Regions from separate parts of the Homo sapiens genome. Here region 1 is linked to region 2. The links come from fine-mapping of genetic effects on gene expression. A gene starts in region 2. The other region holds a variant in brackets. All regions are shown on one strand. Distances are between the middles of the regions.

Evidence for each region. PIP is the estimated chance that this variant, and not a neighbour inherited with it, causes the effect.
Region 1: its variant is fine-mapped to the expression of TTLL2 in spleen (GTEx, PIP above 0.99). The same link has a PIP of 0.9 or more in prefrontal cortex.

The regions. Positions count from the first base shown.
Region 1 is chr6:167,345,652-167,356,203 of GRCh38, reverse strand. It overlaps the pseudogene LOC100421518. Among named protein-coding and RNA genes, the nearest start is that of TTLL2, 26 kb to the right of the region's middle. RefSeq lists enhancers at 1-119, 4,429-4,723, 4,547-5,225 and a silencer at 4,936-5,205. The variant ACGCGGTCAG/G (reference allele first, on the strand shown) is at 4,721.
Region 2 is chr6:167,320,342-167,328,341 of GRCh38, reverse strand. TTLL2 (tubulin tyrosine ligase like 2) reads right to left here and starts at 3,256. Exons shown (of 3, transcript NM_031949.5): 1 at 3,122-3,256. The coding sequence starts at 3,168. RefSeq lists an enhancer at 3,216-3,717.

The DNA of each region.
Region 1 (10,552 bases), 27 kb before region 2:
CCATGTTTTCCTAAGGAGCACAGGTCCCTCTCAGAGCATGGGCCCCCAAGTTTCATGGCCATCAGGCGCAGCCCCTCCCGCCCCTTCTCTCCTGCTCCTCATGGCCGACATCAAGCAGAAGGCCCTCCCTTAGGTCAGTCCTGCTTCCTCCGACTCATCATTCCTTCTGCAAACCTTCCTTGGCTCACCCTGCTCCATCCCCAGGCTAAAGCCCCCAAGAGCTCCCTGAACCCTGCACCCCTCGGGTCCTCCTCACACTGTATCCCAATGACCCTGGGACCTGCCCGTCCCCATCTAGAGAACACATTGAGGATGGAGCTCAGTCACCTTCACCTTCTCTCCCCAGCAGCTAGAGTGGAGAGTGGAGCCTCAGAGGCTCTGGAGCAAACGAAGAGGTGAGAACATGGAGAGGGGCCTCGTGAACTCTGATTATTGGTGTTAAAGTGAAAGGGATTTCAACATGGAGGCTGACGCCCAAAAATGAGGACTCTGATGCTCAGTTTATCAAATTCACCTTTGAAACAACCTTTGCTTGAGCACTTAAAGATTGATTCTAATTAAGTTGTCTTAATGAGTACTGCAATTATAGTTTTAGCATGGCTGATTCTTTTGAACAAATACCTTATACAAGAGACACAACCAAACAATTCAGATTATCACCTACTTCTTACCTCCACTTTGAACCTACTCTACAGCATTAACCATTTCCTCATTATTCTATATTTAATTTTTATATTTTCCTAGAATTATTACTATAATTATATTTTGTTGTCATTTTTACTTCTTTCCCTGCTTTAAAAAGAAAAACAGAAATTCTGTAGTTCGTCTTGCTGTGGGTGTGGGTGTGACAGCGGAAACTGTGTTACTCTCTGGTTATTCCTCCTCCAGCATTTTAAACTCAAGTCACTGGACATCGTATTCAACATTTTATGGTTAAACCTGACATGCTACATTAGCATTCTTGTGTTTCTAATGAACGCCGTTCACAAATGTTTTAGTTTTTTGCAACCTGGGATCAGGCCACATCATGACTTTCATTGCCTTTGTGGGATCTTTTTTCCATTAAAAAATTTAAACACGTAAGTTTTGTTACTGCATTTGTATAAAGGTGGATATATCAATCGTGTATATTGAAACATTTTCTTATACCTAAGAGTTTATTTGTTTCCTTCTGATTTTTAAGAGAAATTAAAACATTTTCGTGGGTTCCTAAAAGTATCGTGGGCCCTCATGTGCCTGAGGGAGACGCTGGCCCTGCCTGGCCTCTCGCCTTGTATATTTGAGTCTCCCCTGCCTGGTGTTCCATCACGCGTGGTCCTGGCATTCTGAGACGTCAGGAGAGCTGGTGTTGGTGTTGGAAACACAGGCATTCTTCACTTTCCGAATGAGCAGTGGCTTCCCAGAGAAGGTTCATCCTGGAAAGGCAGGGTGGGGCTGCAGGGCAGCTCTCTGGACTCACGCTCGGGGGTCCTCAGCCATCTCTGCTGTCAGGTGGCACCAACGGGATCGACTCTTATTTTTTGCTCTTGGCTCAATGCCCATTTTTTCCCAGGCTACTTGGCTTTCTTGTGGTTTCCCAGGTTTCTTATCTGCATCTGCAGATAGATACAGGTTTATATCTATACTTTAGAAGCAGACAATGGAAGGAGTAAGACCACATTCCTCATTTATTAAAGGGAATAAAATTAAATGTGTCATTATATTCTTTTGTATCACAACCATCTTTGTATATAACTTTTTTCTTCTGAATATCATTTTCAGTTTGTAATCAACTTACTTCAATTAACCATATTTCATTATTTATTTTTTATTATGAGTTGATTCTCAAACGACCAAAACTTTTCTGTCTTTGTATCACTTCCCAAGTGTCCTTGCTTGCTGGGAACACACAGCACCTGGCAGGCTGCACTAGCTCCTAGGCTGCTGCCTCACCTTACAGGCAGGCCTTGGGGATACTGTGGATTTGGTTCCAGGCCACCACAATAAAGCCCATATTGCAACAGAGCAAGTCACACAAATATTTTGTTTCCCCAGTGCCTATAAAAGTTTGGTTTATATTATACTGTAGTCTATTAAGTGTATAATAGCATTATGTCTAAAATATGAACATATCTTAATTTAAAAATAGTGTATTGATTTAAAAAATGCTAATGATCATCTGAGCCCTCAGTGAGTTATAATTGTTTTGCTGGTGGAGGGCCTTGCCTGGATGTTGATGGCTGCTGACTGATCAGGGTGGAGGTTGCTGAAGGTTGGGGTGACTGTGGCAATATCTGAAATAAGACCACAATGAAATTTACTGCATTGACTGACTCTTCCTCTCATGAAAGGTTTCTCTGTAGCATGCGATGCTGTTTGATAGCATTTTACCCACAGTACAACTTCTTTTAAAATTGGAGTCAATCCCCTCAAACCCTACCCACTGCCCCATCAACTAAGTTCATGGAATATTCTAAATCATTTGTTGTCATATCAATAACGTTCACAGCATCTTCACCAGGAGTCAATTCTATCTCAAGAAACCACTTTCTTTCCTCAACCATAAGAAGCCACTCCTGATCTGTTCAAATTTTATCCTGAGATTGCAGCAATTCAGTCACATTTTTAGGCCCCACTTCTAATTCTAGTTCTTTTGTTATTTCCACCTCATCTACAGTTACTTTCTGCAGTGAAGGCTTGAACCCCTCAAAATCATTCATGAGGAATGAAATCAACTTCTTCTAAACTCCTGTTAATGTTGATATTGGTTCTCCTCCCGTGAATCATGAATGTTGTTAATGGCATCTAGAATGGTGAATCCTTTCTAGATGGTTTTTAATTGACTTTGCCCAGATCCATCTGAGGAATCACTATCTATGGCAGCTATAGCCTTTTGAGATGTATTTCTTAAGTAACAAGACTTGAAAGTTGAAATTACTCCTTGATCCATGGGCTGCAGAATGGATGTGGTGTTAGCAGGCATGAAAGCAACATTCCTCTCCTTGCACATCTCCATCAGAGCCCTTGGGTGCATTGTCAATGAACAGTAATAATTTGAAAATAGTCTTTTTTTCTGAGCAGTAGATCTCAACAGTGGCCTCAAAATATTCAGTAAACCACTCTGTAAACAGATGTGCTCCCATCCGGCTTTGTTATTCTACTTATAGAGCCAAGACAGAGTAGATTTAGCATAATTCTTTTTTTTTTTTTTTTTTTTTTTTTTTTTTTTGAGACAGAGTTTGACTCTTGTTGTCCAGGCTGGAGTATGATGGCATGATCTTGGCTCACCGCAACCTCCGCCTCCCGGATTCAAGCAATTCTCCTTTCTCAGCCTCCAGAGTAGCTGGTATTACAGGCACCCACCACCATGCTTGGCAAATTTTTTGTATTTTTTTTTTTTTTAGTAGAGACGGGGTTTCTCCATGTTGGTCAGGCTGGTCTCAAACTCCTGACTTCTGGTGATCCACCCACCTCGGCCTCCTGATTTAGCAAAATTCTTAAGGGCCCTAGGATTTTCGGAATAGTAAATGAGATTGGCCGCAAGTTTAAGTCACCAGCTGCATTAGCTCTTAGCAAGAGACATCCTGTCCTTGGAAGTTTGAAGATAGGCATTGACTTCTCCTCTCTAGCTATGAAAGTCCTAGATGGCATCTTCTTCCAACAGAAGGCTGTTTCATCTACACTGACAATCTGTGGTTTGGTGTGGCCACCTCCATCACTTACCTTAGCTAGGTCTCTGGATAACTTGCTGCAGCTTCTCCATCAGCACTTGTTGCTTCATGTTGCACTTTTATGTTATGGACATGGTTTATTTCCTTAAACCTCATGAACCAACCTCTGCTACATTCAAACTTTTCTTCTACAGCTTTCTCACTCCTCTCAGTCTTTGCGGAACTGAAGAGAGTTGAGGCCTTGCTCTGGATTAGGCTTTGGCTTGAGGGATCCATATCAGCAATAAAGCTGTTTCACTTTCTCGTCATTCATGTGTTCACTGAAGCAGCACTTTTAATTTCCTTTAAGAGGTTTTTCTTTGCATTCACAACTGAGCTAACTCCTGGGTGCAAAAGGCCTTGCTTTCAGTCTATCTTAACTTTGAACAGGCTTTCCCCACTAAGCTTAATCATCTCTAGCTTTCGATTTAAAGTGAGAGATGTGTGTCTCTTCCTTTTACTTGAACACTTAGAGGCCGTTGTAGGTTATTAATAGTGTAATGGGAATAGGGAGGCCTGAGGGGAGGGAGAGAGATGGGGGCAGCTGGTCAGTGGAGCATGTGGAACACACGTGACATTTATTACGTTTTCTGTCTTACGTGGGTGCAGTTGTTGGTTCCCCAAAACAATTACAGAGTAAAATCGAAGATCACTAAGTACAGATCACCATGACAGATATAATGATAATGAAAAAATTCGAAATATTACAAGAATTACCAAAATGTGAAACAGAGATATGAAGTGAGCACAAGCTGTTTGAAAACGGGACCCACAGATGTGCCCCAACGGAGTTACCACAAACTTCCAATTTGTAAAAACAAGTGCAGTATCTGCGAGGCACAATAGAGCAAGGCGCAACAAAACGAGGTCCGCCTGTGCGTGCGAACCCCTCGCAGGGAGGCTGTAAACACAACGCAGGAACATCATGAAAAAGCCCGTTCCGGCGCTGGGCTGCAGAGGGCGCTGTCGGGTAAACAGGTCATTTCGCGGCACAAAGCAGCTCACAGCGCATCTCTGAAGTAACGCGGTCA[ACGCGGTCAG/G]ATTCACCTTTCCAACATGTGCCATGCAACAAACTGGGTCACTGAAAACCGCGGAAGTTTATTCCTCACCCCCCCCCCCGCCCCCGGACCAGGTGGGTTGCGCCCTCAGGGAGCTGAGCCGTCCCCGTGAGGCCCCTTCGCTGCCAGCACAGTTCAGCTGTGCCGTCCCCAGCGCTGCGGTGCCTGTAGCTGGTGTGCGGAGGAATCGTGGTCAGAAATGTGCACACGTGGTCCAGACAGACGGCCCCGTGAGTCTCCGAACAGAAAAGAGGGGGGCGAGGCGGAGTCCTGAAGGCTAGGCTTGCAGAGGCGGGAGAACCAGGCAGGGGGCCACGGGCCTGCGGGGCTCCGGACAGCGACAAGGGCGGCGCCCCCCACCCGCCTGCGCTCCCGGAAGGCCGAGTCTGTCAGCGCTGCCTGCGGTGTGTGGCAGCTGCGCGCTCCTTCCCTGTGGGGCAGAGCTGGCTGGAGCCACCGCCTGAAGAAACTGGGCTCTGTCCTCCGCTCCGGGGAGGGGATCGTGGCCAGTGGATGCTGAGTTCCTTCTGTTGCCTGCCGCAGCCCACAGCGAAGTCACTCTGAAGAGCATCTCGCTGGCCTGCGCTTCTGCTTCTAGGCGGCTCTGACCTTGACACCCCTTTCCTCTTCTGCTTATGCCTTCGAATCCTACATTAAGGGAAATGGGGATCCTGTTTTGAAACCAAATGAGAAAGAACCACAACCCTCAACTTCAAAACACTTCCAGTCTCCTGAAGGTTTTTTAGATTCGGAGATCTCCACCCATTTCCCAGGGTCCTTGAAATGTTTCCTGGAGCCGCGCCTCTCCCAGTGCTCTGGCTGGAGACAGCAGCGGTGGCTGTCTTCCTCCGCGTCCTTGTGAGCACCCAGTTTGGGGTGGAAGAGTCAAAAAAAAAAAAACCCAGGAACGCCCCACCCTGTCGTTCTCAGGGTCCCCCGGCTCCCCCGGGCTTCCTCTCTCCGCCTCTCGTCTTCCTGCGTTTGTCTGATGGGCACTGCCCGAGGTTTCCGGTTGCACCTGCGGGACGGAGGAAAACGCACGCCTGTTCCATCTTCTTAGGAGGGGAATTCTGAGGCTTTTTGAATGACCACCGTGTAGCGCCTTAATTCTCCTTCACTTTCACCGGTTTTGTCTGCCCCACCTCAGGAAGACTGTCTGTGTTCTTTCCTCCATAGCCCGGGCACCGAAGGCACATGCCGTGCATACAAATTTCCTGTCTCGTCTCAGACTCCACGTGAGCTCGTTATTACTTCAATTTAATCTGCGCACGTTTCACCCTAGGAGAGATACTGCCAGATGTGGCAGCTTCTCCTGACAGATGGCCCGAGGCCATTCTTGCCCTAAAACTTCAAATGCTCACATAAAACCATCCTTCCTAACAACACAGGTTTTCCCATTTCTGTGAGGTTGACCTTTACACCTGAAGAGTCATCGAAACCCAGCTAGTGATAAAGAAGTGAAGATTTCAAAAAAACGGAGGGAGAATGGAATCTGGTCTCTGGTTTTCAAGCGATTCCAGTTGCTTGATTTAGTCTCATTGGAATGTTTGAGCATTTGAGGAAAAGGCCCTTAACTCTATTTGCCAAACCCCATAAAGTAGGAGCTGAACTGACATTTAAAATCGGAGCAGCCTTGACGGGCTTGCGTTCTTACTTGCGTCCTTTAAATCTTTCCTGGAACAGAGTTGAGAACGTATAAATGTATAAATGCGTGAAAACAGGCAATGAACAAAGTGTTCATTCCAGTCTCGTGTCTAAATTCCCCGGAACATGTTTTTTCTCCTGCCTTTTCTCTGAACTCCATGCAGGTCAAGTCACAGCCTTTTTTTTTTTTTTCTTTTTTCACAGACTCTCACTCTGTCTCCCAGGCTGGAGTGCAGTGGCGCGATCTCAGCTCACTGCAACCTCCGCCTCCCAGGTTCAAGCAATTCTCCTGCATCAGCCTCTGGAGTAGCTGGGACCACAGGTGCACACCCCCACGCCTGGATGAGGTCATAGGCTTTGTCAGCTGTACCCGCAGTCTCCCTGTGCACCCAGCCACGGTTAGAGGTCACTGTCTTGACCCTGGCGGTGACCCTTGCTCTTTGCAGTTGTGCCACCCACTCTGCATCCCTACTTGCAGCAGCTTAATCTGGCCTCTTTCAAAATAATTTCAACCGACGGTAATTGTATATATTTCTTAGGTACAATGTGAAGTTTTGATGTATGTTTGCATTGTGGAATGATTGAATGAAGCTAAATAACATATCCATTACTTTACAGGCATCATTTTTTCTGTGTGAAGAAAACATTGAAAATCTATTATTTTAGCAATTTCGAAATATACACTACATTATTATTGACTATCGTCACCATGCTATGCAACAGATCACTAGAACTTCTTTTATTCCAGCACTTTGGGAGGCCGAGGCAGGCAGATCACAAGGTCAGGAGTTCAAGACCAACACGGTGAAACCCCGTCTCTACTAAAATGCAAAAATTAGCTGGGCATGGTGGCACTCACCTGTAGTCCCAGCTACTCAGGAGGCTGAGGCAGGAGAATGACTTGAACCTATGAGGCGGAAGTTGCAGTGAGCCGAGATGGCGCCACTGCACTCCAGCCTGGCGACAGAGCAAGACTCTGCCAAAAAAAAATAATTAATTAATTAATTAAAAAATAATAACACGTTTAACTTTATTTCTTCATTTTTTACTTAAAGCTTGATTATATAAAATAAAAAATTTTTTCAAGAGTTCTACATCACAGGACATTAAACAGTAGAAATATCTGTTCCTTCATAGGTTCAAGTTATATAAATTAAATCTGTAAATTTATTAAATATGGAAAACTACATGATGAAATAAATGTCAAAAGGATCCAGTAGAGCAATATTGCATTGCTTATGGATTATTAGTTACTTTCAGGATCTAAACCAAGATTCTAAATATTTAGACTGCTTTCATTGTATTTTATATTTAAATATCTCCCTACCTGTGCTGAGTCAAGCCACTTTACCAGAATGTCTGATTTAAGGAAGCATTTCATTTTATAGCAAAAGTTTTTCCATCTACAGTTACCATCTGCAATGGAATTTACACTACGGTGCTGACAAAAACCTCCTGGTTCCTTTTGAACAATGTGCAATAAATTCATTATGTCAACCCCATGGTAAGCCTAACAGGTATCAAAAAAATTGACCAATTACACAAAGTTCAGTAAAGTATAATATTGGTTTTTCCCATGTCAACATTAACCAGTGAAATAAAACATATCAGCTATAGTTGACTTGGTTTCAGGAAAACCACGTTTGAAAATTACACTATCTTCCTCATGTCATCCTCGGTCATTGACAAGGTTTTGTGGGTCACCACGCTGTGAGCTGTGTGGATGTAGCAGCAAATGAATGAAGGGAGACTTGCTCGGATTGGTCATGAACTGTGGTCCCCACTCTTCCCATCTTCCAGGTACAACCAGATCTTTGCATAAATCATAGATCGAATGAACAAGAAAATTCAACAGTTGCAGAAATGTCACTAACTGTGGTTCATCTGATCGCTGGATGGATTTTGTCCTGGATAGCTTTCTGAGACTTTTCTCTGGGTTCAGTGTCCTCCTTTCTCTGGGTTACCTGTCCTCCTTTCTCTGGGTGCGCTCTCTGTTCTCTGGGTGCACCGTCATCTTTTGCAGTCTTGTCACACTCAGTATCAAAGTGCCTTCCTTCAAGGACATCACCACTTTCAATATTTGCAATGACTGTGGCGAATTTATGAACGAACATTTGTATAGCCAATCCTTTGGTTGTTCGAGCACATTATTTAGGTATTGTATGAGCACAGGATCTGTAGTTACAAGCAAGGTGAGTCTGTACTCTGCACTCCAATGAAGGCTTCAGGTGGGTATGTGCTGTGCTGATATAAAATGCTGTTGATACCAAATGGGAAGAACTCAGCCAGGATTCCACGCTCCTGCCAGGGTGATTCTCTGCTCCTGGGAGAGCTGCATCGCCTCAGCCAGGCCCACAGACCAAGGCACATGGGTTTCCACTTGGCCGACCAAGAGCGCAGCCGCTCCCCCGGCCCCTCCCGCAGCAGTTCCCCACCACGGCTTCATAGAACTTAGTTCTTCTGCCTCACTGAACTTTGTACCCTTTGACTAGCATTTCTTCATTTGCCACCCCTACCCACTCCTCAGCCTCTGGTAACCAGCATTCTACTCTCTACTTCAATTAACTTAACATTTTTAGATTACATGTACAAGGGAAGACCTGTGATACTTATTTTTCTGCGCCTGGCTTTCTTCACTTAGCATAATGTGTTTTAGGTTTACCCATGTTGTCACAAATGACAGTGTCCTTCTTTTTTAAAGGCTGAATGGCGTTTCATTGTAGATATACACCAGCCTTTCTTTATCCACTCATCTGTGGTTGGACACTTCGGTTGCTTCCGTGTCTTATGGGGAATAATGATGCCAGGAACATGGAGGTGCAGACATCTCTTTGACATGTTGATTTCATTTCTCTTGAAAATATACCCAGAAGTGGGATTGCTGGATCATATGGTAATTCCATTTTTTGTTTCTTGAGGAACATCCATACTTTTTTAAAACAATGGCTGTATTAATTTACATTCCTACTAGCAGTGTACAAAGACTTCCTTTTCTCCACATCCCCAGCAAAACACAAAGTGTGATATCACTTCATACCTGTTAGAAGGGATATTGTAATGGATCACCTTTTTAATAATATCCATTCTAACAGGTATGAAGTGCTCTAGTGGTTTTAATTTGCATTTCCCTGATGATTCATGATAGTGAGCATTTTTTCATGTATCTCTCGGCCATTTGTGTGTCTTCTTTTGAGAATGTCTAGTCAGGTCCTTTGCTCGTATTTGAATTTTTAAATATATTTTTGAAACTAGCCCCTTATCACATACAGAGTTTACAAATATTTCCTCCCAGCCTGGGGGTTGTGTCTCCCCTCTGTTGTTTCCTTTGCTGTGTAGGCGCTTTTAGTTTGATCTAATCCCATTTATTTTTGTTTTTGTTACCTACTCTTTTGGGGTGATATCCAAGAAATCATTGACCAGACCAATGTTGTGCAGCTTTTTCCTTATGTTTTGTTCTAGTACTTGCACAGTTTCAGGTCTTTTGTTTGGGCCTCTAATCCATTTTGAGTTGATTTTTGTATGTGGTGTGAACAAAAGGTCCAATCTCATCTTTCTGCACTTAGTTTTCCCAGCACCATTTGATGAAGAGACTGCTCTTTCCTGTTGTGTGTTCTTGGCACCTTAGTCAAAGATCAATTCCCTGTAAATACGTGGCTTGATTTCTGGCCTCTCTATCCCGTCCCACTGGTCGATGCGTATGTGTTCATGCAACCACCATGCTGGCTTGGTTACTCTAGCTTTGTAATCTGTTTTGAAAATAAATAGTGCTATGCTTCTAGCTCTGTTCTCTATGTTCAGGATTGCTGTGTCTATTTGGGGTCTCTTGTGGTTCCATACAAATTTTAGGATTGTGTTTTCTATTTCTATGAAAAATGATATTGGGATTTTGATAGAAATTGTATTGAATCTGTAGATTGCTTTGGGTAGTGCAGACATTTTAACAATATTCATTCTGACAGTTTATGAACACAGGATAATATTTTAATATGTGTCATCTTCAATTTCTTTCATCACATTTTACAATTTTCAGCGTACATATTTTTCACCTCTTTGGTTAAATTTACTGCTAAGTATTTTTATTGTTTTGATGTTATTGTAAATGAGATTTTCTTAATTTCTTTTTTATATAGTTTGTTGTTAGTGTGTAGAAATGCAACTGCT
Region 2 (8,000 bases):
TCAGCCAAAAATAATGTATTCCATCACTGCGGGAATCCCGATCTCTAGATGAGGGCCCACTGATTTGCCCAGAAGACTGAGGGACAACAGGATGCAGTAGGAGAGAGCGGCTCCCAGGGACGGCAGCCTCCTTAGCCGACAGCTCCTAGTTTTGGTGCTTTCTTCCATCCAAGACAGGCTCTGCAAAAATAACTAAGAGTCTTTTTCTTCACATTTTATCTTTTTGGCACATTCACTGCTTACAGGACAGAGCCCCAGAGCAACTTTCCATTTGACCGGGATCCAGCTGAAGGGTTAAACCATGTGATTCAACACCAGGAATTTCAGGTGTCATCGAACTGAAATGAGGAGAAAATATTTTGGGGTCAAGGAGAGGGGCCCTTCTCAAGTGACCTTGATACCAGATGCTGTAAAAGGAGTTTTCACCAACATAGAGAACCAAAGAAAACATCCGCCAATGAATAGGCAATGCTGCTCTTTGCCTCTTTCATGTGCAAGAGATAGAAAGAAAAGTGTACATTTTTATATAAAAAGACCTATACTTTTAGGATTTCAGAGGTTAATTACAAAAGCATTTCCCTGCTTTACTTGGAATTCCTGGAGATTCACCATACATAACCTGTATGTTTCCGTTTCTCTTGTGCGAATATGGTTTCCTTCACTTTTTAACTATTAATAGCCACCCCTGTAGCCAAGCCGTAAATATGTAAAAACCTATATGCCATCTTGGTGTGAATGTAAAATTCATACACACAGCTGTTGTTCCACACGGCTTAGCACAGTGAGTTCCAAATTTAGAAGTGAGTTGTTGTAAAAGGAAAATAAATCTCAAGACCACAAACCCACTAAGCCAAAGGGAAAAGTCAAGCTGGGAACTGCATCAGGCAAACCTGCCTCCCATTTTACTCCTAAAGAAGATGGCTGCAAAGATGCAAAAGCTACATACAGACCTCCCTCACAAGGAAATTCCTGGTGGGCTCCAAGATCTTTACCCAAGAACAGTTCTGCTGAATTTCACCCTGACAATGTAAGATGATAACTCATCTTCACAGGCACGGGACAAAGGACAGAACTCAAAGTCATCCCTCCATTTACCTGAGGCAAATGCATAACTGATGGCATCCTCTGTCCTATGTTTATTTCATCTTATATAAAAATGAAGTTTCACTAAGCAAGACGAATGCTAAGCGACTGTTCCTCTACCCGCCCCACTTATAAAATGTGTATTCAGTGAATGCTGACCAAAGATTCAAAAAGTTGCAACTGCTTCCCTCTTACAGACCCTCCTTTTTTTTTCCTTCCTCTTTCCCCCAATACCTACTCTTTTCTCTTTACTTATTAAGGTCCCCAGACCCTCTATGGGGGAAAAAGCATAAGCCACAGCCTTTTCCTGTGGTTCTGTGTTCTTTTTCCTGGGTACATCCTTAACCTTGGCACATAAACTTCTTAAATGATTGAGACTTGCGGTGGTCATTTTCTTTGATTTACATTGTCTACCAGGGGTGTCCAGTCTTTTGGCTGCCCTGGGCCCATTGGAAGAAGAATTGTCTTGGGCCACACATAAAATACACTCACACTAACGACAGCTGATGAGCTAAAAACACAAAACAAAATCACAAAAAATTCATGATGTTTTAAGAAAGTTTACAAATTTGTGTTGGGCCACATTCAAAGCTCTCCTGGGTTGCATGAGACCCAAGGACTTCGGATTGGACAAGCTTGGTGTAGACATAGAAAATATCCCACCTTTATTGGGTAGGAACGCACAGTAGCTGCAGGCCTTGTGCGTGATTGTTCTAGGTCATTGAAGCCATTTGTGGAGATCAGTCACCCTCAAGCACTTGGCCTGTAAATGGTCCACATTCTGCTTGTCACCTTTCCTGATGCATAGTTGATAGCTGTGGCTTATAGTTTATATGGAATGTAGAATGCTTTTCACCCCAATTATAGATGAGACAGTCCCGTTTTTTGAGTTGACCAACTTAAAAAAACTTCCTACCTAAATGTTCTTTTGAATAAAAATTTGTATTGCTTGAAACACAGAATAATTATTTTATTATTAAACCAGAAATCATGCACTATTTTTTCTGTTAATTATCAGGAAAGTTCTGTTTTCTCAAGAAAGTTCTAAGGTCGCAGAGGTCAAAGATCAAGTCCCATGTGTACGCTCAGCCCCAAGACACCCAGAGTAGCCTCATTTCCAACAAACCCGGGGTAGACTGAGCTGCTTGAAACGCAAACGCCATCACTAGCCCAAGTTGGGAGAGCTGACTTTGCCTCTTTGAAGACTGGAGATGGGCAGGTGTGATCTCTTCCCTCATCATGACCTCTGCCTGCGGTGTGGAGGCTACAGGCCGGCAGGCACTCACGGCCTTGCACCCGTTCTCGGCCGCTGTTCGGCCTGTCACAGCCCGCTTCCCGCTCGCATGTGACAACAGGAGCCCAGTGCTTCAGCCCACCCTCCTCAGCCTCAAATGCCCCTAGAGCCCCTGAGTTTCTGCTGATGGAAGCCCACCTCTCCCAGGAAGCCCAGCATGAATGCCCACTCCTCCTTGAAGCCCTTCCTTTCTACACTGGGGGGATTTTCTTTTCCCCCGTGGGGTCCATACCACTTCACACTTATCCTATGGAAACAATTCTGCTCGGCCCTGAATTACAACCATGTGTGTTTCATAGATGATCCAGTTCCGTCTCATAACCCTAGCATCTGTCACAGTTCCCAGAGCACAGCGGCCATTCAATCGGCTTTGGTTGAATTCAGTTGAATTTCCTGTACCCACTATGGGATGCAGTTAACTTACACTCCCCTCCTTTGGTAACTTTAGTCTCAGGAATGGGTCTACTTCGTTCACTCTTATATAACTGGCACCTCAGCATGCAGGAGGCACTGGACACCATAGGAAATTTTTGGATTGAAAAGTACATGACTTCATACAATGCTGGACTGCTTTTCCCTTGAAGGAGTATGAAGGGCTGACTACAAATTGCCCCTCGGGGGTCCCAGTGCACACTCGCTGCTCCTAGTGACCCTGGCCCCTGTGCTCTCGGGAAGGGGCTGGTCCTGGAACAGAGGCATGATCGGGGCCACCCTCCCATCCTACGTGTCGCCTCCTACGCTTACCCCAGCGCCTGGCTTTGTGTGGAGGAACACAGGTCCCGCCCTCTCATTGGGCGCTGGTTCCGAGGGTGGCCTCTGTGGGTCTCTGTGCAGCAGCTGCAGCGCCAGCTGAAATGCGCGGAGGCTGGAGGGAGCACTGGTTGCTGATGATGCAGGGTCTGCTCTCCTCACAAAGGGGAAGCCAGTCATAGACTCAGGGTGGGGCCCAGACTGTCAGGACCCCTTAGGGACAGGGACCCAGGCTTCATCACACCTTCCTCCCTCCAAGCTTCAGAGTTCTCTCTCCGACCCAGTGGGCCTCCTGCCAGTCCCCATGCCTCAGGCCTCAGCGGCCAGCACACAGGGGGCAGGCCTTGTGGGCTGCCTGGCGGGGTGGCATCTGTTCTTGCCAGGTTCTCCTGTTGCTTCGCCTGCATGGAATCTTAATATTTAACGTGGGCTGGGTGCGGTGGCTCATGCCTGTAATCCCAGCACTTTGTGAGGCCAAGGCAGGCAGATTACAAGGTCAGGAGATGGAGATAATCGAGTTGAAATCCCGTCTCTACTAAAAAAAATACAAAAATTAGTTGGTCATGGTGGTGGGTGCCTGTAATCCCAGCTAATTGGGAAGCTGAGGCAGGAGAACTGCTTGAACCCAGGAGGTGGACATTGCAGTGAGCCATGATTGCGCCGCTGCACTCTAGCCGGGCGACAGAGCAAGACTCCATCTCAAAAAAAAAAAAAAAAAAAAAGTTATGTCTACACAAAAGCAGTTGAGATTCCAAAATGAATTACGTGTCTTTTTGTTTAAGCCATGTTTGTGTCAGAGATCCCAGTTGGACCCCTCCTTCCAGCTCAGGCTGTGTCCTCGCTAATCTAACGGCCTCCGGCCACCACCCCTGAGGTTCAGGACTGCAGGAACTGGAGAGGCCTTGCCAGGCGTCTCAGAGCCGTAGACTCTCTACCCTCGGCACATGTTGGCTCTGGCAAGTGGCTGCCTCTGTGGATGACAGTTGAATGCTTTATTGCCATCTATTCGATTACAGGCATTGCCACCGTCTTCCAGAAACAATCAATTGCTTCACGTAACTCTATAAAAACTGCACACCAAGCTGCTGAGGAGGTTGCCCAAGTTCTGTCAAGCACAGGGAAACATGGCTAATTTCCTTATCCACAAACCAAGAACAAAAGTCATTCATAAGATATAATCTGAAAGGCATTTTTCTTTTTCCATTTGACATGTTCATGCATTGTTAATTATTTATTGTTTTTCTCCCAGCACGTGGTGGGGTAAATTTTGTAAAAATGAAGTGAAATGAGGTTCTTCCACCAGGACTGTCTTCCTGAGCGTGCGAGGAAGGGTGGGTGGGTGGGGTTACTTTATCTGGGCTTCCTGCACTCCCAGGGAAGGCAATCCTGGCACAAGCAAGAGCACCTGGGCTCAGATCACTGGTGTGTCGATTTGTAAATCATGCATTTACTCAGCCATGTTTCATCTGTCCCTTCCATTGGAGATGTTACACCTGCACCTCCGAGACTTCGTGCTGACTCTCCACTTGGGTATCTGGCAGAAGAAGGGCAAAGCTATCAAGACTAGAGGAGACTCCTAGGGGCATTTTGGCAAGAAAAATATGCGGTGTGCATTTTTTATAAAAATGTATTTTTGTCTGAAGTGAGCACTAGAAGCAAACACATTTCCCCAAACCATTTGTTGTTCCCTTTGATTATTTCCCTGATTTCACATGGGGCTCACTCCTCTCCTTGGCTTCAGTTCTCCACCTAACTCCTGGTTACTGGATATGGAAAGGCTTGGAGATGGGCTTTGCACCTCCTAGGGACTGACCACACAGATTCTGGACTTTAACGTCAGAGACCCAACCCAGAGGAGCACTGGATCCCACCACAGTGTTGGTCCAGCGTCTCCTCCCGCCCTGGCTTCGTGCTGCAGTCAGCGTGCTTGGGGGCTCCCTATGTTCTGTTGTGTGGAACTCACAAATGCCCACTATTATGGCATAAATCTATCCCCCGCTTCCCACTGTTGGCACCAGAACACACTTATTTTACGCACCCTCCTGTGGAATCAAGAGGAGGTTAGATTCATTATGATGTTTACATCTATAATTTTGGCAAAGTGCAAGAAAACTCTGTACCAATACGTAGAATTTTCTCCATTTTATGACACCCCTATCCTATCCCTCCAGTGAGCATCAAGACTCTCATCCCAGGTGGTTGATGGAAGGAGAACCCCTTCTACCCTCTACTGAGCCTGAGGGAGAAAGACTGAAAAACAGCGTGGCTTAAGGGAATTCGGGGGGACTTCTGTGCCTCCCAAAGATCTTCCCAACCCGGTGGCCAAAGCCTAGACATTTTTCCAGTTAGCATTCCTCAAAAACCCCCCGACGAGCACAGTACCTGATTCACTGGGGGAGATAGTCAATATTAACTGAGAATGGACTTTTATTACCATCTTTACTTCAGTACTGTTTGAAGGACTATAATGAACATGATGCTTTCATAATAAATGTTAATGAAGACAGAGATACATCAAATTCAGTACATAAAACGAGCCTCCAGTTTTGGAAGCTGTTGCCTTGGGGGAAGTGGTGGTGTTGGGTCCCCAGGGTCTCGGCTGCTGCTGGTGGCGTTCCATGACCTGCTCTGGGTGCTGGTTACATAAGCATGTTCTTTTTAAAATGCTTCTTGTAGCCAGAATGATCTTTTTATAAAGAAGTCACTTCATGCCTGCCACTCCTCTAATCAAGGCCTTCTAGCAGGTTCTGTACTGGGATCAACAGTGTCCCCCAAAATTCATGTCTTCCCAGAACCTCAGAGTGTGACCTTTGGAAATGGGGCTGTTGCAGATGTGGTTAATCCAATATGACTAGTGTCCTTCTGTGGACACCAGTGGCATGAAGTTCCTCTTAGAGGAACTAGACACAGAGACACAGAGGAGAAGGCTGAGCAAAGATACAGACACATGGGGAAGAGGCCGCATGGAGATGGCAGCAGAGATTGGAGTGGTCCATCTACGGGCCAAGGAACACTGGGGATGGCCCGCAGCTCCGGAAGCTGAAGAGCCAGGAAGTACCCTCCCTTAGGGTTTTCAGAAGGGCCTGGCCCTACTGCCATCTTGATAGAATTCTGGCCTCTAAACTGTGAGAAAATGAATGAATTCCTGCTGTTTTTGCCACTCAAATTTGTGGTGCTTTATTATGACACCCTAGGAAATGAATACGGGTTCCCATGTGGCTCAGAATAAAACTTAAGGGCCTTACCTCGGTGCTGGGCCCTGTGCGATCTGGGCCCCCTCCGTGGGCCTCCTCTCAGACCTCAGCCCCTGCTTTACCTCCCTGGCTTTCCCGCTGGGTGCTGCAGCCTCTCCCACCACCTCGTCAGAGGAAGCGGTGTTTCCGCCCTGCACACAGCTGTGCCATGTCTGTCCTCATGCCCTCACCCAATTCCATTGCTCTTCCTGCCTCTGGCCACCCACAAACCGATTTTACATTTTTTCTGTAGAATAGAAACTTATTGAGAACAAAACATTGCCGTTTAATGCCTGCTTGATTCACTATATCTAGGTCAATATGTGGCACTTAGCAAATGCTTGATATTAAGTACATACTTCTTGGATGAATGAATAAATATCCTAATCTGCTTATTAATTTTCTTGCATGATGAGAATGAGACCTGCTTGGAATTTGTCAGGGTTAAGGATGGAAGTGGAACAGATAGATGAGGTCTCAGGAAAGGTTGCTGCAAAAACAGAAATCACAATTGCCTTCTGCAGGACTGGGCAGGTGAGGGAGGAGTGAGGGGACGGCCCTGGAAGGGGGCTGGCCTGGCGGGAAGGCCCGGGAAGGAGGGACAGGGGTGGTGGGTGGGGCTTTCTCCTGTACTTGGAGGCCGAGTGAGATCCATGGCTCAGTATTGAATGTGAGGTTCCCGAATCTGCTTCTCTTCAAGGCCGCTGTGCTCTCCTCGGAGCTGAGTGTGTGGACTGTGCAGCTCATCGGATGTGCACACACACACACGGGTGCTCATGGGCACACTTCCAAGTTGAACAGGTAAACCCTCTGGGTTTCAGGGCCATATTTTCAAAGGCCCACCCTGTCATTGGTGCCCTTTTAGGCCATGGCTGGAGATGAAGCAAAGCCTGCCCTGCCAGCAATGGGCAGGAAAGAACTATTCCCTAAGGAAGGAGGCTTCCTATTGCCCACACGCATCAGGACAGGCAGACGGAGGCGTCATGGGAGATAAATAACTTGCTTTGCGTTCCCGGTGTGAGACTTTACCTTCCAAAGCGGTCTGGTCGAACGCCTGTGTAGATTTTTGTTTTGTCTTATTTTTGCAAACAGAATGACTAAGGGAAGGGAGGGAGTCAGGGACTGAGGGAGGGCGTGTCGCGTTGGGAGTCGGACAGATGCTCTCCAGACAGGGATAGTGAGTCAGGCACAGGAGGGAGCAGAGTGGGACATTTGCAACGTGGGTAGGATGGAGGCTTTATAGTCACCAGGGGAAACCCACGGCGGCATCTGTCTTTCACCACAGGAGACTGTTCTCTGCCCATGCACGTTCCTTGAGGCCACGGTACAGCCCCTGTCCACCAGGGCACCACGTCTCCGGCCGCTGCTCCTTTGTGTGCGGGTCTGGCCGAGCAGGGGCCTGGGCAGGCGGTCTCGGGGGAAGGAGCGTGGCTGGCCCCGTGGCACCCGCAGCTCTCTCAAGAATGATTCCCGCCACACACGTGCTTCCTTCTGGATTTCCTACCCCTTCCAGGGTGCTGACCCCATGGGAAGAAAAGGGGAAGGAGGAAGGAAGACAAGTTTCCTGATTCCTTCCCCAGACTCAGATCTTCTTTCAGCTGGCGTGATCTGTCCTCGGGACGCTAGGAGAAGGTGGGCTG